Regions from separate parts of the Homo sapiens genome. Here regions 1, 2, 3, 5 and 6 are each linked to region 4. Evidence: fine-mapped expression QTL. A gene starts in region 4. Each other region holds a variant in brackets. All regions are shown on one strand. Distances are between the middles of the regions.

Region 1 (4,948 bases), 23 kb before region 4:
GAGCCTGGGAGGTCAAGGCTGCAGTGAGCCATCATCACACCACTGCACTCCAGCCTGGGTGATAGAGGCCCTGTCTCAAAAAAGAAAAAAAAAAGGCCGGGCGCGGTGGCTCACGCCTGTAATCCCAGCACTTTGGGAGGCCAAGGCAGGCAGATCACGAGGTCAGGAGATCGAGACCATCCTGGCTAACACGGTGAAACCCCGTCTCTACTAAAAATATAAAAAATTAGCCGGGCGTGGTGGCGGGCACCTGTAGTCCCAGATACTCGGGGAGGCTGAGGCAGGAGAATGGCGTGAACCCGGGGAGCAGAGCCTGCAGTGAGCTGAGATCGCGCCACTGCACTCCAGCCTGGGCGACAGAGCAAGACTCCGTCTCAAAATAAAATAAAATAAAATAAAAAGCAAAAGCTGGTAATACGAGATAGGAGAATATGAGCAAGGGCACGAGCGCATCTGTCGCACCAGGGCATGTGCTTCCTCCGTCAGGCCAAAGACAGGGGACACTCCCTCCCACCATCATCACACACAAGTCCTGGGCCTTGCTCTGCTTCACCCTGCTGAGCTCCATGCCTCCACCGGAGCCAAAACCTGTGTCCCAGCGAATACTCTCTCTGGACTGCCTTGGTCTTCAGGTACTGCCCACCCAGCAGCCACTGTGGCAAGAGATGTGGCTATGCTGACTGACTGAGGCAAACTAGGGCCTCCTCTAGTGCTGGGGGCGGGACAAGCCCCCCACCCCTCCCCACCTAGAACTGCATGGCAGCAGTTCCTGAACATTGGGAGGGTAGGAAGGACACTGAGAAGCCAGAAGCCATGTTCATCACATAATTTGTTTCCCTAAACCAAAAGGTGATAGTGGAGTGGAAATAAAGCTTGCAAGAGGAAGAGTATAGAAACCTGAAAAATCAGGGCTGGAAGAGGACTTCATTTTCTTTTTATTTTATTTTTTGGAGATAGGGTCTTGCTCTGTTGCCCAGGCTGGTGTGCAGTGACATGATCATAGCTCACAGCAGCTTCAACTTCCCTCGCTCAAGAGATCCTCCTACCTCAGCCTCCTGAGTAGCTGGGACTACAGACACACACCACCACACCCGGCTAATTTTTAATTATTTTGTAGAACATTTCAAAACTTTCTATGCTGCCCAGCTGGTATCGAACTCCTGAGCTCAAGCGATCCTCTGGCCTTTGCCTCCCAAAGTGCTGGGATTATAGGTGTGAGCCACTGGGCCCTGCCTGGGAGAGGACTTTGAAAGTCTCATAGTTTAATTCACTTGTGTTGCTGTGATTCCTTCCTCATCTGTCTTCCACGGTGACATTCAGTCTCAGCTTGTATACCTCAGACCAAGGGGAGCTCACTCCTCCAGAGTAACCCACATTCATTCTAGAGACGTCTATAACCCCTGGAAGTCTCTCTTCATATTGAGTCGGAACATTCCTTCCTGTGTCTTCTCCCATGGGCCCAGCCCTCCCCTCTGGGATATCCAGGACACATCTGCTTCATCTGTCCTAAATCTGAGTCCAACAGGAATGTGTAAACAGTGATTGCATTTCCCAAAGACTTCTCTGGAACAAACTGACCACTCACAGGCCTGTCACCTCAAAGATGGTGGTCACAGAAGGGCCCCAACATCTGGAGTGGGGAGCTGGGGAGGCCCTTGAGGAAGCCATCTTGAAGCTGGAGGGCATCCGATGAGCATCTTCCCTGGAAGCATTGGTTGGTCTCCAGGTCAGTCACAGTTTACTGCTTAGAAACAAATGGCCTCAGTCACAGGGAGGAGCCCCAGGCCCCTCACGCATGTGTTTATTGGAAGGATATGATCTCCCACACATAGAAACACTGCCTCCTCCCACCTCATCAGTTCCCACAGAGCTCTGCAGTGCCTAGGGAAGGCCACGTGCCCTGCAGCTTTAGTTCCTGAGGTCTAGGCTGCTCCCATCTGGCCACACACATCCAGTCCCCCTCATCTAGTCCCAGGCCTGATCCCCCACCACCTAAGAGGTCTGCAAAGGGTGGGGCAGTACACCATGATAGAAGGGGTCTGGGCTGGAGTCTGAGCCCTCCAGGGATCCTGCTCTGCTCAGATAAGTATGCCTTTCAGAGCCTCAGTTTCCCTTATCTGAAAAACAGTGAAAGGAACTCATTTGAGGAGGTGCTCGGGGAATGGGAAGTACCGAGCACATGGTAGCTTCCTAACAGGCTTGTGTATTACGGTATCTTATTGATGAGGTCTTCCCTTCACCTTCCCTGATTTTCAGAATCCATTGAGGGGGTTTCAAATCCCATGTTCTAGCAATCCTGCAATTTGATGGCAAATAGTAACGTTCCTACCATGGAAACACTCTGGAAATCCTGCCTTCCTCCAAGAAGGCCTCACATGTTGATCAGACAGGCTGGTGGTCCTATGCTCTCCTCAACCCCTCTCCCCAGCTTTTATAGATCTTGTAGTAGATGACTGTAGTTGTGCCTTCCCCTCCCCTTCTTGGGAACTGTTCCACCCCATGCACACGCCTATAGAGGGGGCCCTAGCAGTATTATCACCCTTCCTCTGGGGCTTCTTTGACCTCAGGACAAGCTGGATTAGGCAGAGTTCTTCCCTCAGATTCACTGGGTTGGAAGTGGAAGAATCCCAATCCTTCCTTCTCCAGGGTGTGCAGGTCTGGAGCTGCTGCCAGTGTGCAGTGC[A/G]GGGAGAGAGCTGAGAGGGAGGGAAACAGAGAGAAGAGACACAGCATATTTGAGTTCCTGGTTTCTGTGTTCTTCAGCCCTGTCTGTCTCCTGCTTAGTGACACAAACCATCCTTAGGATCCAAGAGGAGCAGCCCATTTCCAGCCTCTTCTGAGGTCCAGCTGATCGGACTTTGAGTGGACGTTTGACCACGGAGAATTAATCCAGAAGCCAGGCAGGTCCACTATCTCCTAGAGCTGGAACATAGAGTGCCAGGGTCGGGTGTTTCCAGGGCTCCACTGGTGAGCCACCGATAAGCAGACAGAACCTTCAGACTGGTCATGAGGATTCTTACATAACAGAGAAAAACAGAAGTCCCTGGAGCCTGAGGAGGTTGGGGCAGAGAAAGGAAGGAGGCTGGGAGAGGGGCTGCCTGGGCTCCGGCCAGCTTCCCCCTTTGTGTCTTCACTGCCTTGAAAGTCCTGCCCTGGCTGCCCTCAGGTACCATCAGATATTTCTGCATCTATCTGGCAAATCTTCCCTTTTGCTCAAGCTACTTTGCCAGGGCTCTTGTTCCAGGTCCCTGGCTATCCTGTCCTTCAACATGGAGGCAACAGAGTCTGTGATCCCCCATAGGGGGCGCTGGAGAACAAGTTCTCACAATTGACCAAGGAGTTTACAGCCTTTTTTTTTTTTTTTTTTTGAAACAGAGTCTTGCTCTGTCGACTGGACTGGAGTGCAGTGGCTGCAACCTCCGCCTCCCGGTTCAAGCGATTCTCCTGCCTCAGCCTCCTGAGTACCTGGGATTACAGGTACACACTACCACTCCAGGCTAATTTTTGTACTTTTTAGTAGAGACGGGGTTTCACCATGTTAGCCAGACTGGTCTTGAACTCCTGACCTCAGGTGATCCGCCTGCCTCGGCCTCCCAAAGTGCTGGGATTACAGGCGTGAGCCACCATGCCCAGCCTACAGCCTTCTTTTGTTCAATTGAGATATGATTCACATAACATATCACTCACCTTTTTAAAATACAACATTTAGTGTTTTCTAGTGTATTCACAGAGTTGTGCAACCGTTACCACTATCTAATTCCAGGACATTTTCATCACCCCGAAATGAAACCCCATACTCTCTAGTGGTCACTTGCCATTATCCCTCCACCCTCCCCAGCCCCTGGCATCCAACAAGCTGCTTTCTGTGTCTACAGATTTGCCTATTCTGGACATTCATATAAATAGAATCATACAAAATTTGACCTTTTAAGTATGGCCGTTTTCACTTACCATAACGTTTTCAAAGTTTATTTATGTTGTAGCATGCATCAGCACTTTACTTTTTGTAATGGCTGAATAATGTTCACATTTTTTTGTACCCATTCATCCATTGATGGATATCTGGGTGATTTCCACTTTTTGTCTATTGCGAGTAGTGCTTCTATGAGCATTTGTGTACAACTATTTAAGTACCTGTTTGTTTTCAATCCTTTTGGGTATAGACTTAGAAGTGGGATTGCTGAGTCATGTGGCAATTCTCTGTTTAACTCGTTGAGGAGCCACCAAACTGTGTTCTTTTTTAAAATTTTTTTTAATTTTTTTTTTTTTTTTGAGACAAGACTCTCCCTATGTCACCCAGGGTGAAGTGCAGTGGCACAATCTCGGCTCACTGTAGTTTCCGCCTCCAGGGTTCAAGTGTTTCTCTTGCCTCAGCCTCCTGAGTAGCTGGGATTACAGGCGCTTGTCACCACGTCTGGCTATTTTTTGTATCTTTTAGTGGAAATGGGGTCTCACCATGTTGGCCAGGCTGGTCTCGAATTCCTGACCTCAAGCGATCTGCCTTCCTTGGCCTGCCAAGGTGCTGGGATTACAGGCGTGAGCCACTGCTCCCAGCCCCAAACTGTTTTCTATAGTGGCTGCACCATTTTACATTTCTACCATCAATGTTTGAGGGTTCCAATTTCTCCACATCTTTGCCTATCCCAGTGGGTACGAAGTGGTATCTCACAGAGGTTTTGATTTGCATTTCCCAAATGACTAATGATATTGAGCATTTTCTCATGCACCTATTGGCCATTTGTATGTCTTCTTTAAAGAAATATTTGTTTTCCCATTTTAAAAATTGGGTTATTTGATTTGTTTTCATTTGTTTTAATTTTTTAATTTAATTTTTTTTTTTTTTTTTTTTTTTTTTTTTTTTTTTTTGAGACGGAGTTTTGCTCTGTCGCCCAGGCTGGAGTGCAGTGGCGCGATCTCGACTCACTGCAAGCTCCGCCTCCCGGGTTCACGC
Region 2 (4,948 bases), 42 kb after region 4:
AGGAGATCGAATCCCAGAGAGAGGAGGTGATTTATGTGAGGGTTTTGCGAGGCTGGAAGTCACGCCCACAGCCTCTTGCCAGGCAGCAGTGGGGGCCTCAGCCCCCAGGCCTCTGCCAGAGTGGCCCCAAACTGCTGACTTCAGCATTTCACTGGCCAGGGCAGATCAGATTTCTTTTCTGGCACTTGGCCACCCTGCACACCCTTCCCCCATCACTATTTTGAGCTGAGCTCCCCTGTCCCCTCCTCCCAGGGCTGTGGCCCTCACACCCAAAGCCTCACTCCAGGCTGAGGCCTTTCCACCTCTTGACCCACCACCTTCCCTCCAGCCAGGGAAGGCTGGGCTGGTCACGGCCATGTCTATCCAGGCCTTGCCAGGGACGCCTTCAGACACAGAGCCAGGGGCCAGCTGCCCTGTGCAAATGGCGCTGCTAGCTCAAGACAGCCGTCCAGGGTGCTCAGCACTGCCCAAGGAGGCGTCCTGGGACTGGACAGAGCCCACGCCATGATCAGCCCTGGCATTGCCACCTCCTACCTGTGCGACCTCCACCCTGCCCTAACTTCTGCTGTCCACCTCACACCTCACCCTTTGCAGGCACTGCCACTCCTGGTGTCCCCTCCAGCTGCCAAAGGATTCTGAGCCCCAGCCTGAGCCTAGTGCTACCATAGAAGTGAGAGGTGTGGAGGGTGCACCTGACCGCAGCACACAGAGAGGCTTGTGGGAAACAAGATGGCAGTAGGGGAATTTCGTTTAAATTTCGGGTGAAATCTCTGAGTTTGGCAAGCTGGAGGTTGGGTCAGGGCAGGACATGACCTAGGGAAGATCATGTCTCTCGCCTTTCCTGGAGCTAAGCGTGTGGTGCAAACCACAGAGTCCCCTGGAAGTTCAGGGAGAGGGCCTTCTCCAGGGCAAGGCGGCGGGTGGGTTCTTATCTCCACACCAGCCAGCCTGGGACTCAGCAGTGGAGTGAGCTCCTGAGCAGTGCATTAGCCCTCTCTGGGCCAGGGAGACCAGGGTGCCCCTGGAGCTTGCTCTTGAAGGGTACATGGCTGTTCACTGGTGAAGTGTTGGGTACAGGGAACAGCAAGAAAAAGGCACAGATGGGCAGCATGTCACTTGCAGGGAGTGACTTTTCTTTATTTGAGTGTAAGTGCTGTGGGTGGAAGGTCAGCTGGGGCCAGAAGGGGAAGGGGCCCGAATGCCTTGCATGTTTCATCTCAGCTCTGCGGTGAGGCCCAAACCTGAAGTGGGCCTTCATTTAAGTATTTGGGGAGATTCTGCCTGGCCCAACTCAGGCGGTGACTGCAGCAGGAGAGAGAGGTGCAGTCGGAAGAAAGGTCTTGCTGAGCAAACGGGACCCAAAGAGGGATGTGCAAGATCTGGAAACAACAAATGGTTTTCAAACTCAATAGTCCCCTCCAGCAATCAGCAAACAGCAGGGTGGCTGCAGATCTTCCATCCACCCACTAAGGCAGCCAGCAATCCCTGTCTCTGCAGTGGCGGAGGAAACCTCTGTCTTTTGCAATCCCTGTGATTCGGAAGCTTTCCACCCCTCTGGACCGGCCCCTCTTCCCCTCCCGCCCCTCCGCTCTGATCCGTGTGGTTTGCTAAGGGAGGAAAGCCAGAGCAGGAAACAGATAACTTAGGGAGTGGCTGTTCATGTGATTAAAATGTCTTTGCTTTCCAAAAAGTTTTGCCTGAGATTACTTCAAATCGCCTGGCTGGGGTGGGATTTGGAGAGGGGGCTTCTTGCTGCCTTCTGGGCAGCAGCGCCTCAGGGCCGGGCACAGGGCTGGAGGCACGGGGTGTTGGGGGGCTTGGCACTTCTCTGGGTCCTGGAGGGGCTCCTTGGCCTCTGTGGGCCCCGTTCCCCCGAATGTCTCTGTCTCCCAGCCCTTTTGGTTTGTTTCTGCATCATGTCTCGCCTCTCCTGGGCACCCTGTCCCCCCTTCTCCTCTTATCTGCTCTGACGGGCGCTCTCTCACTCCCTGCCCCTCATTCCCAACATCGTGTCCTCACTCCCTGTCTCTCCAGGATCTCTCCCTCATCTCTCTGTCCCCCGCTTGTTTTCTCCTCTCTATCTCCCTTCCCTCCTCTCCACACCCC[C/G]ACTCCATGCCCCCCTCCCCAGGGTTTTCCTGAGGCCTTTTCCTGTCCCTGTGAAAGCTCCCATTGTTCCTTGCACTTTGACAAACCCTAGTGTTGTGGAATCAGGATGGCATTTTTGTGGTGGCTTTGGGCTGGGAACGGGGGTGGGAGGGGTGACAAGAGGCCAGGCCTTCTGGGCCCATGCTGGGCTGCAGCAGGAACCCAGAAGAGGGGAGGGGGCCCTGGGCAAGGAGGCGAGGACGGCTGTGCGCAGACAAGGAGGCCCTTGAGGCTCCAGAGGAAGCCCCGGGTGGCCTCTTGCCGCGTCCTTCCTCCCTCCCAGCATCCTGCAGGCCGCGGCCCAGCCCACCTGTCCCTCTGACCGCCTGCTTCCTCCGGGGCCTCCGTGGAGCCTGCAGCTGCCCAGACCAGGCTGCAGGGACGCAGCCCTTCCACCTGCCTCCCCCGGCCGTGCATGTGGACATGTGAGTGTGGAGGTCTTTGGTTGGTCCCTAAAGCAGTACCACAGAGCACAGAGGGGAAGGAAAAGCCAGGGGCTCAGCACTTGGCAGACTTGCTGCCCCTGTCTCGAGCCTCAGTTTCCTCATCCGTCATTAGGGTTAAGAGTGCTGATTCAATGAGGCCGTGGCAGTGATCAGAGATAATTTCATGTGGCATGCATAGGTCCCATGCCTGTCACTTGGGAGGTCTGTCTGGCCTCTGCCTGAGGGCGTGAATCCAAGTGTGTTTTCACAGGTGTGAGTCCGACTTGGGCTTGAGCCCAGGAGTATGTGGCTAGGGGAGTTCGCGACTGGTGTGGGTCACGGTTGGGGAAAGGGTCACAGGGCTGACTTCTTTGGAAGGCCTTGGACTGAGAGCTCCATGAAGACAGGGCATTCTTCATCTGTCTTGTTTCCATATTTCTGGAATTTTCCACAGAGCCTGGTGCAGAGTGGGTGCTCAGTGTAAATTAGGTGAACAAATGAATATTGAGGTGGTGGCCAGGGTCGGAGGTAAGAGGTGCGGCTGTGTTCCTAGGAGCAGGCTTTTTCTTTAATTTTCTCTCAACCGTCTCACGGAGAGGCCGCACATTCAGTGGAAAGTGTCGTTTTGGAGTCAGCAAATTGGGTTTAAGTTCTGGCTCCATGGCTGTGTGGCCTTGAGCAGGTTGCTTGGCCTCTCTGTACCTCAGTTTGCTCTCCTGTTAAATGAAAGAGCTCTGGAGAGCCAGGTCAGAAAGCGTGTGGCACATTGTAGGTGCTCATTGAATGCTAGTGTCTCCAGCTCCACCAGAGCAGCCCCCTCACATGGAAGATAGAAAAACCAAGGCTCTGGCCGGGCACAGTGGCTCACGCCTATAATCCCCACACTTTGGGAGGCCGAGGCGGGCGTATCACAAGGTCAGGAGATCGAAACCATCCTGGCTAACACAGTGAAACCCCGTCTCTACTAAAAATACAAAAAATTAGCCGGGCGTGGTGGCGGGCACCTATAGTCCCAGCTACTTGGGAGGCCAAGGCAGGAGAATGGCATGGAACTGGGAGGTGGAGCTTGCAGTGAGCGGAGATCACGCCACTGCACTCCAGCCTGGGTGACAGAGCGAGACTCCGTCTCAAAAAAAAGAAAAAAGAAAAAAAAAGAAAAACCAAGTATCTAAGACAGGCGTGGGAGAGCCAGGGCCCAACCTGGACCTCTGACCTCTATCCCCTGTTTACTCCGCACTGCCCCAGGCTCAAGGAGAGACACTAGGGAGAATGACCAGGGACCTTCTGCCTCCTCTGGTAAAGGCCTCCAGAAAGGGCCAGCAAGGCCACACAGAGGATCCTGGGCTGGGGTCGTGAGTCCGTGGTCAGCCCTGCGCCCCCTCTGTGGACTAGTTGCCCCACCCCTGTGGCCTCTGTTTCTACATCAGTGGAAAGTCTTTCTCGAACTCCTGAGACCGGGGCTCTTGCTCTCTGGGAAGGTAGACTGGAGCCCAGGGCCACCTCAGCGGCCGGGCTGCAGGAAAGCACGCAGACTGGGCAGACCGGGCAGGACAGGGGCCAGCAGGCAGCCCATCTGTTCTTTATTTCCTCCCCCTGCTCCTCTTGGCTCCAGCCAGAGCCTCTCAGCTGGACGCACGGTGGGGTCGGCCTTGTGCTCCATGGGAGGGCGGAGCGTGAGTGGGCTGCCAGGCACATGCTGAGTTATGGGCCTCCTGGGAGGCCAGTGACCCTGCCCAGCAGTCAGTCCAACCTCTCATTCTGGAGATGGGAAAACTGAGGCCCAGAGATGGGGAGGGATGCCCCCAGCATGCCAGGACCCATGAGAACAGCGGCCCCTTCCCGTTTCTCACCATCCCGGCTTGGTGGGTCTCTTCTTTGTGCAATCCTGGCATGTTGTGTAGCAATTTAGAAAGTGAGCCCACGTTAGGTGGCTTGGGCTCGGATCTGGACTACCCCATTTCCTGGCAGCGTAGCTTGGGCAAGCCATGTAACCTCTACATGCGTCAGCGTTCCCATCTGAAACCTGGGACTAACCGTACTTAGCTCATGGATGGTTGTCGGGACACAAAGAGTGCCTGGCCCTGACCAAAAATACCCAATGTTGGAGCAACAGTGATTTCTCCATCCCAGGGTTTGGCAGGGCACAGGCCTGCGCCCCTGTGCAGATGGGAGTGGCAAGGCCAGGTCTGGGGGTGAGGCACATACCTCAGGCTGGGAGGTATCGAGGCCTATAGCTGGAACCCATATCCAGAGGGCAGAGGCCGTGCATCCTGGGGCACAGTGCAGCCTGGAGTCTTGGCGTGCAGGGCACAGCCTCAGGCTCTCAGTGCCCACCCTGCTCTCCTCCTGGTCCCTATGATTCTCTGCCTCAACAACCA
Region 3 (4,948 bases), 110 kb after region 4:
GCTCCTGGTCTCGCCTGGCGCCAGCCTGACCCGCTCAGCTCAGCCCCTCCTCAAGGCTGTCCCCACAAGCCATCTCCTCCAACAAAGGGTCAGTGTCCTCGAGAGGGCAGGTGCTGCCAGGCGGGACCACAGCCAGGCCTGCTGGGGAGTTCTGGGCAGTCAGTTCTCAGAGGAGTGACCAGGGCCTGGCTATGTTGAGGACAGGGCTGGCGGGATCTTTGTTGTTTTTGTTGGTTTTGAGCCACTGCCCCTAGGAAGAGGTCAAGGTGAGAGAGGCAGGCAGAGGCTAGGGCTGGGGAGCTGCGGTACTTTAGCCCAGTTCATGGCTAGAGTCCAGATGGGGGCCTCTCAGGAGGAGTAGAGGCCTACTGACCTCCCTGCCACTATCCCCATGCCCCACCTCAAGACCCTAGGCCCCAGCTTGACCTGAGACCCGGCAAAAAAGAGCCAGAATCCACCCTATTTTCAAGCCAGGAAGGAGTCTACCCTTTAGTGTGACAGCTTATACCCACCCCCATTTTCCTCTCTGCCCACTCCGTCAGCCTGTTGAAACTCCTGCTGAGGCCCACTGCCTGCCTCTCTGCTGCCAGACTGGGCCACCTGCCAGTCCCACAGAGCCAGCCTTCAAACCCCCACAGCTGGTCAGTCAGCCCTGGGAGAAGTGGTCCCCCCACTGGGTCACACTTCTCTGAATACAGGCTGCTCACAAGCAGAATTTAAGCCATTGATGGGTCAGGGCTGGCAACCATCTCAGGCCACATCAATAAAGGCCAAGTCTCTGTAACAAGGGAGGTCGGGTATTCTATTTGCAGCTCAGGCCTGTGGAAATCAGACAATCTCCAAATATTGGAAGGAGTGTCACAGAACAAGGACAAATGGATGGAGGTTCCGGAGAGTAATGAATGAAAGCTACAGACTTCGGAACAACATGAGGGTAGATAAAAATCTGTCGAGGATTTGCGTATATTGTGCTTTTCCCATCAGATTATAAGCTCCTTGGAGGTCTTGTTCATCTCAGTAGCTCCTCCACCATCTCAGTCTCTTAATACCTGTCATCACTCAGCTCACAGTGATGGCAATAAATATTGGTAGATCAGTGGGTGGATGGATGGGTAAATGTATGAATGGTGATAGAGTATGGATGGGGAGATGAGTAGGTGGGTGGATGCATAGGTGGGCAGGTGAATTGATGGACAGATGGCAGGAGAGTAAATAACGGACTGACTCCTACACTGGAGCAAGGACAGAATGGAAGCTGGCATAACCCTGGCCAGCACAAAACAGGCTTCTCAAAGATTTCTTACAGAGGCTGCAAAAGGCATGAAACATAAGAGAAAAGGCAGATAACCTAGACTTCATTAGCATTAGCAACCTGTATTCATCAAAAGACAACATTAACGAAACAGAATTAAGAAATGAAGCTACAGGCCTGGTGCAGTGGCTCATGCTTGTAAACCTAGTGTTTTGGGAGGGCAAGGCAGGAGGATCCACTGAAACCAGGAGTTCAAGCCCAGCCTGGGAAACATAGCACAGCTCTGTCTCTACAAAAAAAAAATTTTTTTAATTGAACTGAACATGGTGGCATGTGCCTGTATACAGTCCTAGCTACTTAGGAGGCTGAAGCTGGAGGATTGCTTGTGTCCAGGAGTTCCAGGTTGCAGTGAGCTAGGATCATACCACTGCATTCCAGCCTGAGCAACAGAGAATCAAAAGAAAGAAAAGGAAGGAGGGACGGAAGGGAGGAAGGAAGGAAAGAAGGGAGGAAGTAAGGAAGGAAGGGAGAAAGGAAGGAAGGAAGGAAGGAAAAAACTACAAAGTAGGACAAGATAGTCACAATACATACATCTGACAAAAGTTCATGTTCACTACGTATAGAGAACTTACATCCATCAATAAGAAATGGTAAACAGCCCAATAGACAGTGGTCAAAAAACTTGAGCAAGCATTTCACATATACACAAAAAGGTATCCAAATGACCAATAATCATGTGAGAAGGTAGACAGACAGCATCTTTAGGGTCATCAGGACAAAGCGAATTAAAGCCCCAATGGGATACTATTATATACCCACTAAAATGGCTAAAATTAAAAAGGGTTGCTGAGGATGTGGCATAGCTGGAACTTCCATACATTGTTAGTGGGAGTGTCAGTTGGTACAATAACTTTAGAAAACTGTTTGGCAGTTATCTACTAAAGCTAAAAATATGCTTACCTATGACTCAGAAATTCCACTCCTAGGCATATATTTAAAAGAAATGAGGGCCAGTCATGGTGGCTCATCCCTGTGATCCTAGCACTTTGGGAGACTGAGAAACGAGTATCACTTGAGCTCAGGAGTGTGAGACCAGCCTGGGCAACATAATGAGACCTCATCTCTACTTTTTTTTAAATTAAAATTAAAGGCTGGGTGTGGTGGCTCACACCTGTAATCCCAGAACTCTGGGAGGCCGAGGCGGGCAGATCATGAGGTCAGGAGATTGAGACAATCCTGGCTAACACGGTGAAACCCTGTCTGTACTAAAAATACGAAAAATTAGCTGGGCGTGGTGGCAGGCACCTGTAGTCCCAGCTACTCAGGAGGCTGAGGCAGGAGAATGGCGTGAACCCAGGAGGCG[G/C]AGCTTGCAGTGAGCCTAGATTGCACCACTGCACTCCAGCCTGGGCAACAAAGAGAGACTCTGTCTCAAAAAAAACAAATTTTAAATTTAAAAAAGAGAAATGAGTATGTATGTCCACACAAATACTTCAAGTGAATGTTCATAGGTGCCTCAAACTGGAAACAACCGAAGTGCCCATGAACAGTAGGGTGAATACATGCATTGTGGTACATCCATACAGTGGAATACTACTCAGCAATAAAAAAGAACAGCTACTGATGCAGGCAGCAACATGGATGAATCTCACTCATGTGTCTGGCAGCTGAGACCTCGGCCGGGCAGTCGGCTGGAACACAGGCTGTGTCCTCTCCATGTGGCCTGGGCTTCCTCATGGTGTGGGAGCTGGGTATCAAGAACTAGAGCCCAGGAGCAAGACCCGGGCAGTAGCTGTGTTGCTTTCATGACCTACTGCCGGGAGACACATGGCCTTACTTCTGCCACATGCTGCTGGTTAGAAGTGAGTCACAGAGGCCAGCCCATATTCAAGGGAAGAGGAATAAGACTCCACCTCTTAATGCCAGGGGTGGAAAAGAAATTGCATGTTTTAAAATCACTGCACCAGGGAAGATTGGAAGCACGGCCCCTTCAGAGGATGAGCCCTGACTCTAATGGGGACAGTTTAGAAGCTCAAGTGACAATTGGCATGGCCGAAGACCTCGGCATCTGTGGCACACTAATTTTTAAAAATTTTTAATTTGAGTCCTTTTTTGTTCCCTTGAGACAAGGTCTCATTCTGTCATCCAGGATGTAGTACAGTGGTGTAAACACAGCTCACTGCAGCCTCCATCTCATGGGCTCAAGCGACCCTCCCACCTCAGCCTCCCAAGTAGCTGGGACTAGAGGCTACAAAAATCTTGAGGATATGCTATATGATTATGGAAAGTACAAGAGTAGGTGAAACTAATCTATGGTGAGATAAGTCAGAATAGGGGCTACTTTGGGGGAGGGGGTCACTGGAAGTGGGTACAAGGGAGCCAGCCTTCTGGAGTCCTGGAAGTGTTCTAAATCTTGATCTGCATGGTGTACATATGTGTATATTTACCAAACTCTACATTGATGATCTGTGTACTCATTATATTTTTGTTATACTTCAATAAAGCATTTTTAAAACACAAACACAATTCCTTTATTCCAGAAGAGTTCAGTGTGCTGGCGTGGAAGCAGAGCCCAGAAGGTGCATTATCTCTCCTCCCCTTCCAAGAGGCTTGGTTCTCAGAACACAGCATAATACATCTCACGGGAATTGAGAAGTCCTTGTCTGAGGCAAGGGGGCTGGGCTAGATGACGAGGAGAAGATGCTCATATGGGGAAGTCCCCGGGGTGGGATAGATGACAACAGGATGACACATGCCTGGGACTTTCCCACCAGCTCTTCCCAAGGCCACCGCACACTTGAGCTGCTGAGGCACTCAGAGAGCGCTGGCCAAGGGTGTCTATGCCTCCGCACCCTAGTGTGCTGTACTCTGAGGGGTCATGACTCCTGGGGGCTTCCCACCACTGCCCCTCCTCTGTCTCCAGTGTGGGCCACTGTACCAGCTGCAGAGCTGAAATCAGAGGGGAATAGGGAGGAGGTGGGAAGAGGGGGACCTGGAGCTACTTCCTGCCCTCCTGGGCCTCAGTCTTCTCCTCTGTAATACAGAAAGATTGTGCTACACTTCCAAGGCCATTCTCAATGCAGGTTCTGAAGGTTCCCTGGGCACCCCAAGCCACCCATGAGCCCAACTGGCTTGCCAAGCACATCTGGAGAGCTAGAGGGCTCTGTCAGCTGACTGCACAAAGCCCAAGTCATCTGGGCTTCTCCTCCCGCGAGTCAGGGAGCATCACAGGAGGCTGACACAGGTGAGCCTGTGAGGCCGGCTGACCAGGGCAGGGCACACCTCATGGTCAGAAGTGAGTCAGCCGGGGCCTGGCTTCACTCAGCCAGGAAGCCCACGGGATGGAGCTGGACCAGGCTGAGGACTAACCCATCACAGGTGCCAAGAGAGGAACCTGAGTCACCCTTGCCCCCTCTCTCTCCCACTGACCCCACTCCTGCCAATCAGGCATCCACCCTTTCCTCTATACCTCCTTGGCATCCCTCGGGTCCATCCTTCCTCCCCATTCTGCGGCCCCCTACCTTAGAGACTGCAGTAGGCCCCTCCCTGCCCTCCAATCCTAGCCCCAAAGTCCAGTCTCCTTCATTCTTCCAGGTGGAACATTTTCCCCCTCCTTTATTCAGGCATAATTGACATTCAATACAATGCATGGATCTTAAGAATGAAGTTTAAAGAGTTTTGATAAATGCATACTCCTGT
Region 4 (4,948 bases):
TTAAATGCAGAGTTCCTTAGTGTGCACATGATAGGGCAAGAAGGTGCAGAGTTTGGGCGTGGCCCGGTCTTCTGGCCTGGTACCTAGGCCTCTGATACCCATCTGGTCACTCTCACCTATTACCCTCTCCCACCGTACATGTTGTTTCAGGGGATCCTGGAGCATGCATTCCCAGCAGCTGGCTGAGGGCTGACCTTAGGTCAATCAGTTGCCATCCAGGCAAACTGCCTATAGGATGCTCATATTTATTAGTCACCTACTGGGTACAGAGCCCACATGTTGAGCAGCTGTCCTGTGGGCAAGGAGAGGGAGAAAAGTACAAAACCAAAGAAGCCGCTCAGGCTTCAAAGAGGAGCAAAATCTGGGCATCCATGCGTCTCTCCACCTATTCATTCAATCATCAACCCAGCAACTATTTCCTGATTATTTACTATCTATGCTCCAGGCTCTGGGTAGAAACTATGTTGGGGAGAAAGAGGCAGAGGCCATCAATGTGGTCACCAGGCATGATAAACACCTTCTTGGCATCAAATCACTCTGAAGGACACAGGGAAGGATCAGAGGTTTCTCTAAGCAGGTGTCAGATTCCTAGTTATGTCCCCTCCCTGAACAGCAGTTTTCTCTATAAAATCTAGGGAAGGTCTTATCAGTGGTTCCAAATCCTACCTCCATCCTTGGAAGCTCAAAGACAGCAGCAGAGTTCCAGAGATAATCCCAACTATTTCTTTTGGTGTGGGGGCGGGGGGTACAAAGTTTCACTCTGTTGCCCAGGCTGGAGTGCAGTGGCATGATCTCGACTCACTGCAGCTTCCACCTCCTGGGCTCAAGTGATCCTTCCACCTCAGCCTCCTGAGTAACTGGGACCACAGGCATGCGCCACTACGCCCGGCTAATTTTTGCATTTTTTTGTAGAGATGAGGTTTTGCCATGTTTCCAGGGCTTGTCTGGAACTCCTGGGCTCAAGCAGTCTGTCTGCCTTGGCCTCCCAAAGTGCTGGGATTACAGGTGAGCCATTTGCAAGAACCGTGTACCTACTCTTTAAACAAATAGGTTTAATACTGTTTAAAAATATAAAGGGTACTGTATAGATGTGTTCTTGATGAATGAAAATATGAAGACATGATTGATACATATGCTGTCGTTTGTATTAATAACTGCAAATTGATAGACAAGATGGAGATCTGAGATCCAAGGGCCTCTTGGTTGGTGAAAAAGGGTGGCATTTGGTCATCACTGAAGGCCTTCGTGGTGCGAGCGACCATAGATGTGGTTAGGTGCCCTGCAGGTGATGTGAGTAACTCGTGGAGTGGGTGGCGGGGAAGAGCTGTCCTTTATGGAATATCTTCCGCTTACCAAACCCAAGCTGGGAAGCACACAAATGTCCCCGGCGGCGGGAGGATGACTGCTCCCATTTTACAGAGGAGAAAACAGGCTTGCTCGCAGAGGTTAGGCGTCATGCAGAGGTCATTCCGCTGGACGGTGGCCAAGCTGGCACTCCAACGCTGGGCGGAATGGCTCCAGAGCCAGACTGAAAGTGGGAGAGGTGACTCGGTCCCAGCCAGGCGGTGAGTTCCTCTGGGCTAGGTCCCCGGTGCTGGCGCAGCAAAGACCACCCGGAGAAAGAGACGGTGAAGGCCCCGGGGCTTCCTGGGGCGTCAGGCGGAGGCGGAGGCGGGGGCGGGGCTCCCTCCAGGCAGTCTTGGACTAGCTGAGTTGTCCCAGCGAGATGGGTGACAGCCGCTTTCCCGAGCTCCCCCGGCCCAGGCTGGTGTCCTGGCGACTCGCCAAGGCACCGGGGCGGGCTAGGGCTGGAGCCGGGGTGGAGGAAGAGGGTCGAGAAGCGAGGCGGGCCCAGAGCAGAAATAGGAGAAGGGGGGGGGGAGGGGGCGGGGAGTCTTTCCTGGGGCAGGAACCCGGGCCCCCCTTGGCGCAGCCGGCCCGCAAAGTGATTCTGCAGATGGAAGGAATTAAGTAGGAGGGGGAGGGTCCGATGGTGATAGCGAGAGGAGGGAGTTAGAAGTGTGTGCGTCTGTGTACACGCGTCTGAGAGAGGAGCGGGAGAGACAGGGAGAAACATCAGACCAGACGGAAATAGAAGAAAGGAGACAAGAAGAGTGAGAGAAAGAGAAGGACATACACACACACACACACACACACACACACACGGAGGGCGCCACATACAAGGACGACGGACACAGGAGACTAGTACTAGTCTAAGAGAGAGAGAAAGAAGGAGTATGAGAAAGGAGGGAAAATAGGAAAGGAAAAGTGAGTGAAAAACAATTGCAGAGGATTTGGAAAGAACGAGACAAGAGCGCTGACGACAGAGGGAGACGAAATTGATTAGGCCGGGGCTGCACTGAGCTCCCGGCAGCTCGGGGAGCTGGGTTGGCCGGGCTGGGACGAGGTGGGGCTTGGGCGGGGCCTCGCATGGGCGGGCCCGCGCCGTGCTGCATATGCAGATGAGCCTCACTCCCCTCTCTCCCCACCCCTGACGGTTCATATTCAACGAGACAGCCAATGCAGGGCGAGGACAGTGCCAGGCGGGGCAGGGAGTGGGCGGCGGGGCATCGTGGACCCCACCCCCGGAGCCGCCGCTGGAGGGGTCAGCCGCGAGGCAGATAGCGGATCGCCGGGCGGGGCGGGACGCAGTGGGCGGGGCGGAGGGGCGGGGCCAAAAGTTTCCTGCCCAACTTTCGCTGCCTCCTTCCACCGCCTGCGCGCGCCGGGGCCGCAGTCGGGGGGAGGCGGCGGCAGCGGCAGCGGCTGCGGGCAGCGCGCGGGGCGCAGGGCGCGGGGCGATCACCGTCGGGGCTCGGGAGGCGGGCAGTGGGCACAGGCTCCCCGGTGCCCGCCCCTCCGCTGCGGAGGGGGGCCGCGAGCGGGCGGCCGGGGAGGGGCCGGCACCGCCGCCACAAAATGAGCCTGCTGTCGGCCATCGACACGAGCGCCGCCTCGGTGTACCAGCCCGCCCAGCTGCTCAACTGGGTCTACCTGTCGCTGCAGGACACGCACCAGGCTAGCGCCTTCGATGCCTTCCGGCCCGAGCCGACCGCCGGCGCCGCACCCCCGGAGCTGGCCTTCGGCAAGGGCCGCCCCGAGCAGCTGGGCTCGCCCCTGCACTCCAGCTATCTCAACAGCTTCTTCCAGCTGCAGCGCGGAGAGGTGGGTGCCCCCGCGCGCCCCCGCCCACCGCCCCACCGCCCCACCGCCCCACCGTGGCGGGCCGTTCCCTGTCTGACCCGCTCTTCCTGGCCTGGCGCGGCCCGGCTCCGCATTGCCGGGCCCGGCTTGGCTTGGCTTCGTTCAACTCTGCCAAACTCGCCGCCCGAAGTCCCCGGGGTGCCGGGTGCGCGTCACCTCCCGGCTGAGCCCGGGCTGGAGCAATGCAGGCCGGGGCGGAGCTCTCCCGCCCCCTCTCCCTGCCAGGGCAGCCCTGCTCCAAAGGGGTTGGGGGAGGGAGTTGAGGAGGGGTTGTCTCCGGATTTTCTTCAGACAGCTGGGGTGCGGCCTGGGCGGGGAGCCCCTTCGAAGTGTCCTTCTCACGCCCAACCTTATCCTCGTCCTGGCCACCGCGGGCTGGGACCGAGAGTGCAGATTCTGCTCGGAGCTCCTCTGGAAGGGCCTAAAATCTTTTCTCCGACCTCTGCGGTTCCCGACCCGAAAGGCACCCTGGAGAGCAGTGACTGCCCAGAGGGCTTCTCCTGCTGTTCTCACTCGGGGACCCCAGATACGTCCTCCAGCTGCTCGCCCTCCCCCAGCCACATAGGAAGTGGTTTCTGAGGGCTTGACCCCACAGACTGCGCTGTCCCCAGCCCTCCCAGCCTCGAAGGAAATGAAAGGGAAATCCTCTTGAGCTCTTGGGAGGGGGGCTAGAAAGGGGGGGGGAGAGGTTCCAGCTGCCCAGCGCCTTCTGCAGAAACCTGGGCCGGCTGTGTTGCAAAGTCTGCCTGTTTGGTGGATTCAGTTACAAAGTTGACTGGGCAGCGCCTCTTTGCCAGCAAGATAAATACACAGATCGCCACCACCTCCCAGCCCTTTTTGAAGAGTCTCCAGGGCCTGCCCAGATACCACTCCTTTCCGTGGGCTGGACTCCTCCCCTCCCTCCATTTACTCCTGCCTCATTTGGGAATTTCAGACACCCATCTGTGGCCTTCACTTCCTCCCCTTGTGGGGGTTTTCTCTGCAAAGATGCAAGAGGTGTGTTCGGGGGAGGACACACATGGGGGTCACTTTCCTTCCAGACCTGGGCACACCGGTGAGTTTTAGGAGAGTCAGAGTCCTGAATGGGTTGGGGAGGAAAGCCTATGTACGCAAGGGTGTGCTGGGGGTAAGAGAGGGAGGCAGAGGGTCGCCCTTGAGTTCAACTCTGCCATTATTTACTAGGGGAGGCATGGACATATAAAATGCTGGCCCAAGGCCAACACTACCCAGGCTGACCTGTTGACCTGGGTGGGTAGAACAGGCGTGGGAGGGGGCTGGGTGCAGAGGAGGAAGATGAGTCTGAAAGTGCACCCTTTGGTGTCAGGCAAAAGCATTTCTATGCCAAAGCTCTTTGTAAACTGTAAAGCATTCTCTCCACGTGAGGAATGGTTCTTGGCTGGGGATCTTTCTTTCTTGTAAGAGACTTTTCTGCCTCTTCAGGGAATTGGCTTCAGGTGACCAGTGACTGGAGGACCGTTTGTGGGGTGTTTCTTTGGTGCATGCGTCTTTTCAGTTGTTTGTTCTCTTACCAAACATTTGTTGAGCTCTGGGCAGGACCCGGGGATTCACAGCCACAGGCTAGTGGGGGCCACGGATGAGTAAACAGACAAGGTGATAGAGGGTATGAATGGTGGGTGATTTGATGGGGGTGCTTGTGGGAGCCCCACGGGAGTTTCTCACCCTGGGAGAAGGGTGAACATGACCCACAGGTCAAGTGTGGACCCCTAATCAACCTCTTCTAGCC
Region 5 (4,948 bases), 94 kb after region 4:
CCATGCCAGCACCCTGGCCACAGATTAGCTCAACTGGCCACAGTCTGTGATGACAATCTTCTTGGATGTCCTCCCACTCTTAGAGCCGAAAGATTCTATTTTCTTCACGACGTCCATGCCCTCTTTGACGTGACCGAACACAACATGCTTGCCATCCAACCTGTGAGGACGGGTGACCCGGGTGAGCAACAGTGTAGCGCAATGTCATCCAATGCCATGGACCTGGTCATGGAATTAGTTACCGAAAACAGCAATTCTGAAAAGAATCCCCATGGAATAGCTAGATCTACCCCCAAAGCTCGATCAAGCCTTGTTGAGCGCCCCAAATACACCCCAGAGGATGCCTGGCTTCCAGGACACATTCTGTCACTCATGTTGTGACCTTGCCTCAGGCCATGTAGCCTGAATCCTGGTAACCCCATCTATCAAAAGTGGAGTATTCTTTGTTCTGCATGGGGAGGTAACAGGATACTGAAATGCTCTGAAGAAAGAAGAAGTCCATACAAATGGAACCACGTTAACGGTCATGAATGATGAGTCAAGAGTCAAAGGAACAAGGGTGGTGAAACTGCAGGAGTCCTGGGCAGCTCTCAACCCGAGAGAGTCCAATAATGTAAAAGGCGGCTCAGTCCAGCTCCAGCGAAGCTGGCGTGGTTCCAGCCAAGAGCAGAACTGCAGGATCCACTGGGGTCCCATGAAGGAGCAAAGAGCAGGCTGAGCCAGCAAGGACCTGCCCAGCCCTGCCGGCCACATCTCTTGGGCTTGGAGGCTGGACACTTCTAGTGTCTGCCCCACCTAGGTCTCCCTAAAATCCTCGGAAATGGGCTTTACCAAGTCAGCTCCCAGCCAGTTCATCCCCAGGTGCCCCAGGGCTAGGACATTTGGGACTCTGGCCAGAGAAATTTATCCCTTAGAGGAAAATGTACCAGGAAAGAGACATCCCTAAAATCCATGGGCATTGAAAACAGGGCCCTTACAGGCCTGTGGCTATCTGCAGGTTTATGATAATACAGAGGCTTCATTTGGAAATTTGCTGATATCCAAATGTCTGCTGCAGCATTGCCAAGGCTCAGCCCATGGTCAAGACAAGCCTGGGAAACTCCAGGTTAAAACCACACAAGTGGGCTTCTACTCAGTCCCTCCTGAGGCCTCATAATATGTTTTGCAACATTTCCCAAATGTATCTGGTAGAGAAACCCTTTCGTGTGTGCGTGTGAGCAGAACACACTCAGAAAATTCCAGGTGACAGCAACAATGGGAACCCGAACCATGACAGAGTTGCAGGAACAACCCCAATTCTCCCTTGATCCTTCCACTAACTTTCTCTTTCTCATACAAACACACAGCCTGGGAGAGGGCCACTGTCCCAGAGCAGAAGGCCTGGCTGTAAACTGCCTGCCCCTAAAAGTGCACGAATCCTCCTCCAGCTGCAAGGCTGCCCGCATTCCCAGAGGGCCTGGGGCAGGGAACTCACCAGTCTGTCTTTATGGTGCAGATGAAGAACTGGGAGCCGTTGGTGTTAGGACCAGCATTAGCCATGGACAGGACACCTGCAAAAACCAGCAGGGCTGAGCCACGCTGCCCCTGGAGGCACCTGCCTGGGAGGGCATTTGAAAGGGCAGACGGTGCAAACCACACCAGGGACATTCGAGTCTGCAGATCCTGGGACCCAGAAGAGGAGAACCAGGGCCCGATACCAGCCCCCCAGGGTATGCCTGCCTTTGCTGCCTGCTAGTTCTCAGTGGGGTGGCCTGAGAGGACAGGGCCTTGTGGAAGCTCTCAGTGGTAGAGCTGGGGCGGGACCTGGGGCAGGACCCCAGGACCTGACCTCCAGACATCTCCACATTCTACCTTGGGTCTTATAGGTGACACGATGCTGCCACAATAACCACTCTGGCTTCCAAACCATTTGCTTTTTATCTAAGCAAGATTTTAAATAATCCTCAAAGGACCTAAGGACCATTCTGCAACAATTCTAAGTGTCCTAGAATTTCCAACCCGAAACTCAGAGGACAAACAGGGAGGTGGCCAGGGCCTCCATTCTGCTTAAAGGTTCTTCCACAAAGTTCCCAAAGGAAACCCTGCTTTTTAAACTGAGAGATGAGAAAACTCTAGGGAAACTCAACAAGCCAGAAATGCTGAGACAGCCTACAGTGTCGCAGGGAGGAAGGAGACTCATCAGATACTGGACGGTGACTGCATGTGGCCTCTCAGGGCCTGCTGGGGCTTCCAGGCCAGGTCAGAGCTGTGGGGACACTCACCCTAGAGGAGGCCCCCACTCACCTGGCCCCACGTGCTTCAGTGTAAAGTTCTCGTCAGGAAAGCGGCTTCCGTAGATGGACTTCCCGCCTGTGCCATTGTGGTTGGTGAAGTCGCCCGCCTGTGAGCACAAAGCACCTTCTGAGTGGCTACCATGGAGCAGGCGGGGGCCACGGCCCTGGCGCTGGCAGCAGCCTCAGCCCACCCAAGCCCACCCAGTTGGCGCCCCTCAGGTAAAGGGGTCAATAAACATCCAATAAAATAAGAGCTAATAATAAGAATAATAAGCAAAAAAAAAAAAGACAAAACTTAAATATCTTTTGTCAC[C/A]GTAACTACCTTTGTTTCCAAATGACTTACTTTTTGTCTGAGCAAATTTTTAAGTAATCTTCAAAAGACCTAAAGGCCATTCTGAGATGATACTTAGTGACCCAGAATTTAACCCACTCCTCCTGGAGGGCAACAAGGAAGAGGCCAGAGGCCCCCCAGTTCCCGAGTCTAGTCTGTGGGAGTACCAGCAGCTGGTCCAGACCAGCTCCCCAGGCCGAGTCCCCTCACTGTCCGCGCACTGCCCCTTACCCAGCCCAGCAGCTTTCCCAACCCTTGCAGACCCAGGACAGAGTCTGCCCAAGGCTGACATCTTTCCTCAGGCCTCAGCTAAGGCCCAGGCAGCCGTGGCCAAACCTGCATGGGGCACCCATGGCCAGAAGAGCCTGGTAGCAGCCCCTATGCCTAGCGCTGCCCAGCCCAGGCCATGGCTGGCTGCTGTTTTCCTGAGATGGGATCCGTGGGTAAGAGAGGGGAACTGACCAGCCCAGCTGAAGCATCCACAGGTGTCAATTAGGTGCTCCCTAATTGATATCCCTCCCAACGGATGACTCAGGACTCTGGTCTGGACTCCCGGTGCCACCGCCTTGTGCCAGGGAGCCCTCCCGCGCTGGAGTTCCCACCCTGGCTCAGGACTTCCACCTCAGCTCCTACTTTACCATCAGCCTTAGGGCTGGGCCAGGCCTGCCGTCCCTGTGTTCACCCCGTATCCAGGCTTCGCCGCACATAGACGTCCAGTCCCAACCCGCTGCCACTTACCACGGTACGATGACGGCCACTGGGTCAGGGTGGAGGGAATGGGGAGAGAATTCCAGGCAGGAAGGTCTTCAAAGAGGTCATGACAGCCATGCCCCTGCCTCCAGGCTCTGCCTGCCCAGGACACCCAATCCCTGATCTTGAAGGTCTGTGCTAATAGAAGACCAGCCCCAACACCACCTGGGTCCTGACCCACAGGAAGCTCCTGCTACAACACCTACCCCCAAACCTCTGACACAGCAATACCAATGCTTGTGAAAACTGAGCATGACACATGACCGAAAAACATTCATTTCACCGAGAATAATGCCTTTCTCTGGGAAGGGAAGCCCCAAGTCCTGGCGTGTGTGTTCCTGCCCTGGACCTGTCTTCCTCCTCCGCCTCCTCCACTTCTCTCTCTCCCTCTCTTATCTCCCACACCAGTGCTCAGGGGCACACAGGGGACAAGGTCAGAGACCACTGGAATATGCTGGCTCTTCAAAGTCTTCAAGGCCACCCCCAGCACATCCATCTCCCAACCCAGCTCTCTCTTGATAGACTCCACCTCCCAGTCCCCCGGGCAGGGCCTGCCACTGACCTGGAGTGGCAGCGGGTTGGGGCTGGGCTTCCATGTGCAGTGAAGCCTGGATACAGGGCTAATGCAGGGAGGGCAGCCTGGCTGACAGAGCAACTGCAGCTGCTCTGCTCAGCACCTTCCTCATACCAGGCATCTTCACACACCCACAAGGCAGCTCCTGCTCTCATCCCCCCTTACAGAAGAGGAAACTACATTACCTGGCACATGAAGGAAGGGATCACCCTGTGGAAGGTGGAGCCTTTGTAGCCGAAGCCCTTCTCACCAGTGCACAGGGCTCTGAAGTTCTCTGAGGGTCGAAGAGAAACACAGGTCAACAGGGCCAGGCCCCAATTCCAGGGTCATACCCGTTCCAGCCAAAATCCCTGCTACATCCCCAGCAGTGAACAGGGGGATAAAGACTCTGGCCCACCTCTTGGGTCTGCTCTGCCCAACTCGCTATGTAACTGGACAAGTCACTCCCCTTCCCTGTCCTCAGTACCTGAGCACTGTGACAAGAGTACAGGCTCATGGCTGTGCTGGCCAGCAGGGCACGGACTCAAGGGCTGTGTGCCCATCACCCTGCCTCACTGGGCACCAGGAGTGGGGAAGTCTCCGGGAAATTTACATGTGCCTTCCACTGGCTCTGAGGCTCCCAGCTACTATGAGAGAGGAGGGCAGAGCCAACGTTGAGGCCCAGAGAGGGATGGCAGGGCTGCCCCAGAGCACCCAATGGCTGAGCCACACATGGAGCTCCCATCTGTCAGGGGTCTCTGAGCCCCGACTCTTCTCATCACGCCACCCACCTTGCCCTGCCTGGCCCCCTTCCCTCTAGACCCATCTCAGAAGGCCCCAGGCCCTGTCTTACCAGCTGTCTTTGGGACGACATCTGCCTTCAGCTGTTGGGGGAGAAGAAGGACAAAAGAGGATGGTCATTGGAGAGGCAGGTGAAGGTGGGTGTCTCTCAGCACCCACCCACCCCCACAGTGGCCAAGGAGGCTAAGGAAGAAGCACGTGGACATTCCATTCCCATTATTGCCAACCCCCATGGGAGGC
Region 6 (4,948 bases), 66 kb after region 4:
CACGCAAGCATGTAGGGAGGCTGGACTCTTTCAGAGGCAGGAGACGGGGCAGGCATCAGAGAGACTTGGGGCTGGCCTCAGCTCCCCTGGGTCTGGGTCATCTTGTCATTGCCCTGCCTCCATGCCATTGATTTGCCTCCTCCCAGCCTCTCTGCCCCCAACTGTACACTCTCCAGGGCAACGGCCCTCCCCAGGTTGGCCCCAGACTGGGTGAGATTGTCGGCAGATGAGGTCACGCGTTCACTCAGCGGGGGGACTCCCGGGTGACCATATATAGGAGTGAATCTGCCTCAGAGACGGCAGCCCTGGGCCGCTCCCACTTGGCACACTCGGCCAAGATCAGGATATGGGCCCAGACAGGGAGCATCACACAGTGAGCAAACAGATCAGTCCAGGGGAGACGGGGCAGGGGCCCCTCTTCTGACCAAAGCCTGGGCTGTCATGAGGTGGGGCTCCTGCTGAGGGTCATGGGGAACCACAACGAAGCAAGACTATCAGCAGCCACCCACCTGCAAAGCCCAGCATCGGCTCTTGCTGTTCTCAACCTTGCTGCTCACCTGAGTCACCTGCGGGGCTTTAAGAACATCATGCCTTGGTCCCACCCCAGGGAGGCCAAGGAAGTGGTCCAGGGTGTCTGAGTTTGTAAAGCCCCCCAGCTCAGTCCATTGTGCATCCAAAGTTGAGCAGCACTGGACTTCAGATGGTCCCTAGTGTTCCTGTGGGACCCACGGTGATGGGGAGGAGGCAGGGGGCAGAGAGTCCTGTCAAGGGGGCGCCCGGTCCTCAGCTCCAGCCAACTGTTGCTATCTATGAATGTTGTTGCCTGGGGAGGGAGGGAGGGGCAGCAGGAGAAAAACTGGAAATCCCAGTTGTTATGTGAAATTTTCCATGTTTTAAATTTTGGCAACGAGTTAAAGAGTTAACTGGATTTTTGAATAGTGTAGAAGTCAAAGCACATCCCTATGGGCCATCCCACGGCCCCTGACTGTGGCCTCTGAGATGGAGCAGAGAAAACAAAATGCCAGTCCTTGGGGTCAGGGACCATGGATGTGAAGGGGGAGGGAAAGGCAGGAACAGAGGCCACCAAGGCCAGACCTCCTGTCTTATTTGGGGTACAGAGCAAATCCCAGAACAAAGCCCCTTCCTGCTGATTTGCATCTAGAGAATTCCCTGCGCGGTGCCTGCCCTCAGTGTGTGGAATGGCCAGAGTCACTGGCCTGAAAGCAGGTGGCTGCCAGTCGGGCCCAGCAAGGGAGTGGAGAGGGGACCCATCTCCGCCAGGGTGAGAGGAGAATGGACCCCCTCCTCCACACCATGCCCTCTGCCAGCTCAAGTCCTCCAGCAGCCTGGGTGGGGCTATTGCTCTTCTTGGGCAGATCTGAGGAAACAGAGCCGGTGTCTGTCTCAGGGTCCTCCTGTCCCCTTCAGCACTGCCACCAGGCCAGCCCTGCCACCCCAGCTGTGTGACACTGGGTGGCTTTCCCCCTCTCCAAGCCCCAGCTCTCCCCGGGGTGTTGTGTGGATAAGACAACCCACTGAACACAAGACAAAGCGCACTGCTTGCACCCAGGAGGGGCCCGGGGAGTGTGGGTCTCCTGTTCCCACTGTCTGTGGCTCAGGCAGAAGCATCCGACCAGTGATCACACCAGGGATTCCGCAGGGAGCCAGGCCTCGAACCCAGGGCCCCAGGTGCTTTTGCGCACCCAGTAAGCATTGACTGGGCACCCATGCATGTTGAGGCTGGGGCTTCAGGGCTGTTATTTGATGACATGCCCTTGTCTTTGAGTGTGTGGCAGTGTGCATGC[G/A]CCTGTGTGTTTGTTTTGTTTTGTTTTCTGTGGAAAGAACACAAACCCAAGGCAAACAGCCTGCATTTCAACATCTCCTGGAGCCGTGGAAACCAGTAACTCCCTGGACAGGAAGGATTTCCGGTTGGACTCAGTGCCCATATCCAGAGGCAGCTGGCTGCTGAGGACCCAGGAGAGAGCAGAGTCCACCAAAGAAATGGCCGGCAAGGGATCCAGAGAGGGTGGCCCTGCTCTGGGCTAAAGCTGAGGCCCCACCGGGAAAGGTCTCACCTAGCACACTCACCCAGCAGGCAGGTGGCAGAGCCAGGATTTGATTGAACTTGGAGTTCTCACCTCCCAGTGCAGCGTATCAGGGCAGAGCTGGGACAGACACAGAGTTGCAAAGGTCAGACCAGGAGTGAGGGTCCAGGGCTGGGTGGTCTCAAAGGGCAAGAGACCAGGCAGGAGGAAGGGAGGTGGGGTAGGTTGGTGCCAAGTGGTGATGGTTGCCAGGTTGTGAGGAGCCCCCTTGGCATCTGCTCCAGACACAGAGAGGGGAGACCTGGCCTGGGGAGAGACAGCGGGAGCTCAACCGCCTGAGCACCAGAGCCCATCGGGAGCCCAGGGCCCCCCCTGGCAGGACCCTGACAAGGCTCTACTTGGAATGTGTGACACAGAGCCTCATGTCCTTATCTGTAAGCTGGGGGCAATCAGGACACACTGAGTGGCAGGAGACACCTGGGCAGCTCCCGCACACAGCCCTGGGGTGGCCACCTCTCTCCCACCAGCCCCCACTGTGGTGCTGAAGCTCCCAGGCTCAGGCTACCAGCCGGCTTCTGCGCTGGACTCCGGCCATAGGCTGGAGTTCCTCCCGGTTTTCTGGCCTCATGCATCCTCCTAACAGTCCTGGCAGAAGCCAGGGCAGAGAACAACATGTCAGTATGTCGGGTGCATAAACTGAGGCCTGGGGAAGCCCTGCTGCCCCAGATTGACAAGCAGGGACCTCCACCACACCCTTCAACCTCCACTGTCTGCGCTGTTTCCGATCCTGACCAGGGCCACCGAGCGGATTCCCACCAGCCTGTCCAGTCCTTCCTTCAGCAAACAGCTGTCTGTCAGTGTGTCCTGGGACCTGGCCCAGAGCTCTGAGCTAAGCCTGGGACCCATAGTCTGCTGGGGAGTCAAGCCCCCACCTGCCCTCCTCAGAGACCCTGGTCCTCCTCCCTACAGCCTGGTAAACCCAGGGCTAGGCATCTGAATGCCACCCTTCCAGGGGCTGCCTCCTGTGCAGCCTGTGCCCGGCTCCTGCCCAGGTGTTTGGAAGTGGGGAGAAGGGGCAGGGAATACCCCAGATGAAGGGAATGAGGGCCGAGGTGGGCTTGCCATCTCTCCAAAGTCAGGTGTCCTTGCTACTCCCCCAGAGAACTGGAGGGAGCCAAGAACGGGCTGCGCTTGGGTATAAAGGCCACTCTCGACACTTTCCCTGCCGTTTGTTCTGAGGCTGGATCCCAACTGAGATGTCAGGGCCACTTGCTTCCCCCTGCCCACACACACACGCATCCTCACACATCTCACACGCGCACCTTCGCACATCTCACACACACACTCACACATCTCACACCCACACCCTCACACATCTCACACACACACATCTCACACGGGCACCCTCACACATCTCACACGCACACACACATCTCACACGCACCCACACACATTTCATGCGCACACTCACACATCCACACGTACATTCACACACATCTCACACGTGCACCCATACATCTCACACGCTCACTCACATCCCATACACATCACACATGCACCCACACACATCTCACACGTGCACTCACACATCTCATATGTGCACACCCACACAGCTCACACGTGCACCCTCACATCTCACAGTGCACTCACATCTCACATGCTCACACACCTCACACGCATCCTCGCACATCTCACACACACACCCACACACATCTCACACACGCACCCACACATCTCACACGTGCACTCACATCTCTCACACACATCTCACACACCCACACATCTCGCACATGCACTCACACATCTCACACGTGCTCCCTCACACATCTTACACATGCATTCACATCTCATACACACATCTCACACACCCACACATCTCGCACGTGCACCCACACATCTCACATGCGCACTCACACATCTCACACGTGCACCCACAAATCTCACACGTGCACTCACACATCTCACACACGCACCCACACCGCACACGTGCACCCTCACACATCTCACACACCCACATCTCACACATGCACCCTCACATCTCACACGTGAATCCTCACACATCTCACATGTGCACCCTCACATCTCACATGCGCACTCACATCTCACACGCACACTCACATATCACACGTGTACCCACAAATCTCACACACGCACCCACAAATCTCACACGTGCACTCACATCTCACACGCGCACCCACACGTCTCACACGTGCACCCTCACACATCTCACATGCGCACCCTCACACATCTCCCGTGTGCACCTTCACACATCTCACACACAGACCCTCATCTCACACGTGCACCCTCACACATCTCACATTCGCACCCTCAAATGTCACACGCGCACTCACACACATCTCACACGCGCACTCATACACAACTCACGCACCCACATACATATCTCACATGTGCACCCTCACACATCTCACACATGCACCCTCTTACATCTCACACGTGCACCCACACATCACACACGCACCCTCACATCTCACACACGCATGCACACATCTCACACGCACCCTCACACAACTCACATGCGCACTCACATCTCACATGCGCACCCACACACATCTCACACGTGTACCCTCACACATCTCACATGTGCACTCACTTCTCACACGTGCACTCATATCTCACATGCACACCCACACACCTCACACGCACACCCTCACACATCTCACACATGCATCCTCACACCTCATATGCACACCCACACACCTCACATGTGCACTCACACCTCACATGCACACCCTCACACATCTCATGTGCACACACCTCACACACGCACTCACATCTCCCACATGCACACACACATCTTGCAGTGCACTCACACACATCTCACATGCACACCCTCACACATCTCACGTGCACACACATCTCACACACGCACTCACATCTCACAC

Which allele goes with the higher level. Positions count from the first base shown, and alleles are read on the strand shown. Sizes are in standard deviations (SD) of each study's normalised expression. Not every link is listed here.
With allele C in place of G in region 2, the expression in testis of the gene that starts at base 2,736 in region 4 is higher (small effect, 0.20 SD a copy in GTEx).
For the expression in subcutaneous fat of the gene that starts at base 2,736 in region 4, allele G in region 6 goes with a higher level than allele A (small effect, 0.21 SD a copy in GTEx).

Evidence for each region. PIP is the estimated chance that this variant, and not a neighbour inherited with it, causes the effect. A credible set is the group of variants that fine-mapping cannot tell apart.
Region 1: its variant is the best candidate, but not a certain one, in a credible set for the expression of ZCCHC24 in subcutaneous fat (GTEx, PIP 0.55).
Region 2: its variant is the best candidate, but not a certain one, in a credible set for the expression of ZCCHC24 in testis (GTEx, PIP 0.89).
Region 3: its variant is the best candidate, but not a certain one, in a credible set for the expression of ZCCHC24 in whole blood (TOPMed, PIP 0.60).
Region 5: its variant is the best candidate, but not a certain one, in a credible set for the expression of ZCCHC24 in left ventricle (GTEx, PIP 0.62).
Region 6: its variant is the best candidate, but not a certain one, in a credible set for the expression of ZCCHC24 in subcutaneous fat (GTEx, PIP 0.89).

Annotation. Positions count from the first base shown.
Region 1 is chr10:79,465,936-79,470,883 of GRCh38, reverse strand. No RefSeq gene overlaps it. Among named protein-coding and RNA genes, the nearest start is that of ZCCHC24, 23 kb to the right of the region's middle. The variant A/G (reference allele first, on the strand shown) is at 2,684.
Region 2 is chr10:79,401,045-79,405,992 of GRCh38, reverse strand. All of the region lies in intron 2 of ZCCHC24 (zinc finger CCHC-type containing 24), which reads left to right. Among named protein-coding and RNA genes, the nearest start is that of ZCCHC24, 42 kb to the left of the region's middle. RefSeq lists enhancers at 1-622, 2,239-3,047 and cis regulatory regions at 1,296-1,796, 1,303-1,803. The variant C/G (reference allele first, on the strand shown) is at 2,107.
Region 3 is chr10:79,330,977-79,335,924 of GRCh38, reverse strand. No RefSeq gene overlaps it. Among named protein-coding and RNA genes, the nearest start is that of PPIF, 14 kb to the left of the region's middle. RefSeq lists enhancers at 3,861-4,140, 3,813-4,313, 4,181-4,440, 3,440-4,639, 4,314-4,814 and cis regulatory regions at 3,709-4,209, 3,752-4,252, 3,822-4,322. The variant G/C (reference allele first, on the strand shown) is at 2,616.
Region 4 is chr10:79,443,412-79,448,359 of GRCh38, reverse strand. It overlaps ZCCHC24 (zinc finger CCHC-type containing 24), which reads left to right and starts at 2,736. Exons shown (of 4, transcript NM_153367.4): 1 at 2,736-3,165. The coding sequence starts at 2,920. It overlaps LOC105378383 (a long non-coding RNA gene), which reads right to left and starts at 2,119. Exons shown (of 4, transcript XR_946104.4): 1 at 1-2,119. RefSeq lists silencers at 2,304-2,813, 2,824-2,883.
Region 5 is chr10:79,348,919-79,353,866 of GRCh38, reverse strand. PPIF (peptidylprolyl isomerase F) reads right to left here. Exons shown (of 6, transcript NM_005729.4): 2 at 4,761-4,791; 3 at 4,114-4,202; 4 at 2,284-2,380; 5 at 1,475-1,550; 6 at 1-160. The coding sequence ends at 25. Among named protein-coding and RNA genes, the nearest start is that of PPIF, 3.9 kb to the right of the region's middle. RefSeq lists cis regulatory regions at 1-144, 1-807, 1-814 and enhancers at 1,647-2,147, 4,150-4,650. The variant C/A (reference allele first, on the strand shown) is at 2,587.
Region 6 is chr10:79,377,355-79,382,302 of GRCh38, reverse strand. No RefSeq gene overlaps it. Among named protein-coding and RNA genes, the nearest start is that of PPIF, 32 kb to the right of the region's middle. The variant G/A (reference allele first, on the strand shown) is at 1,806.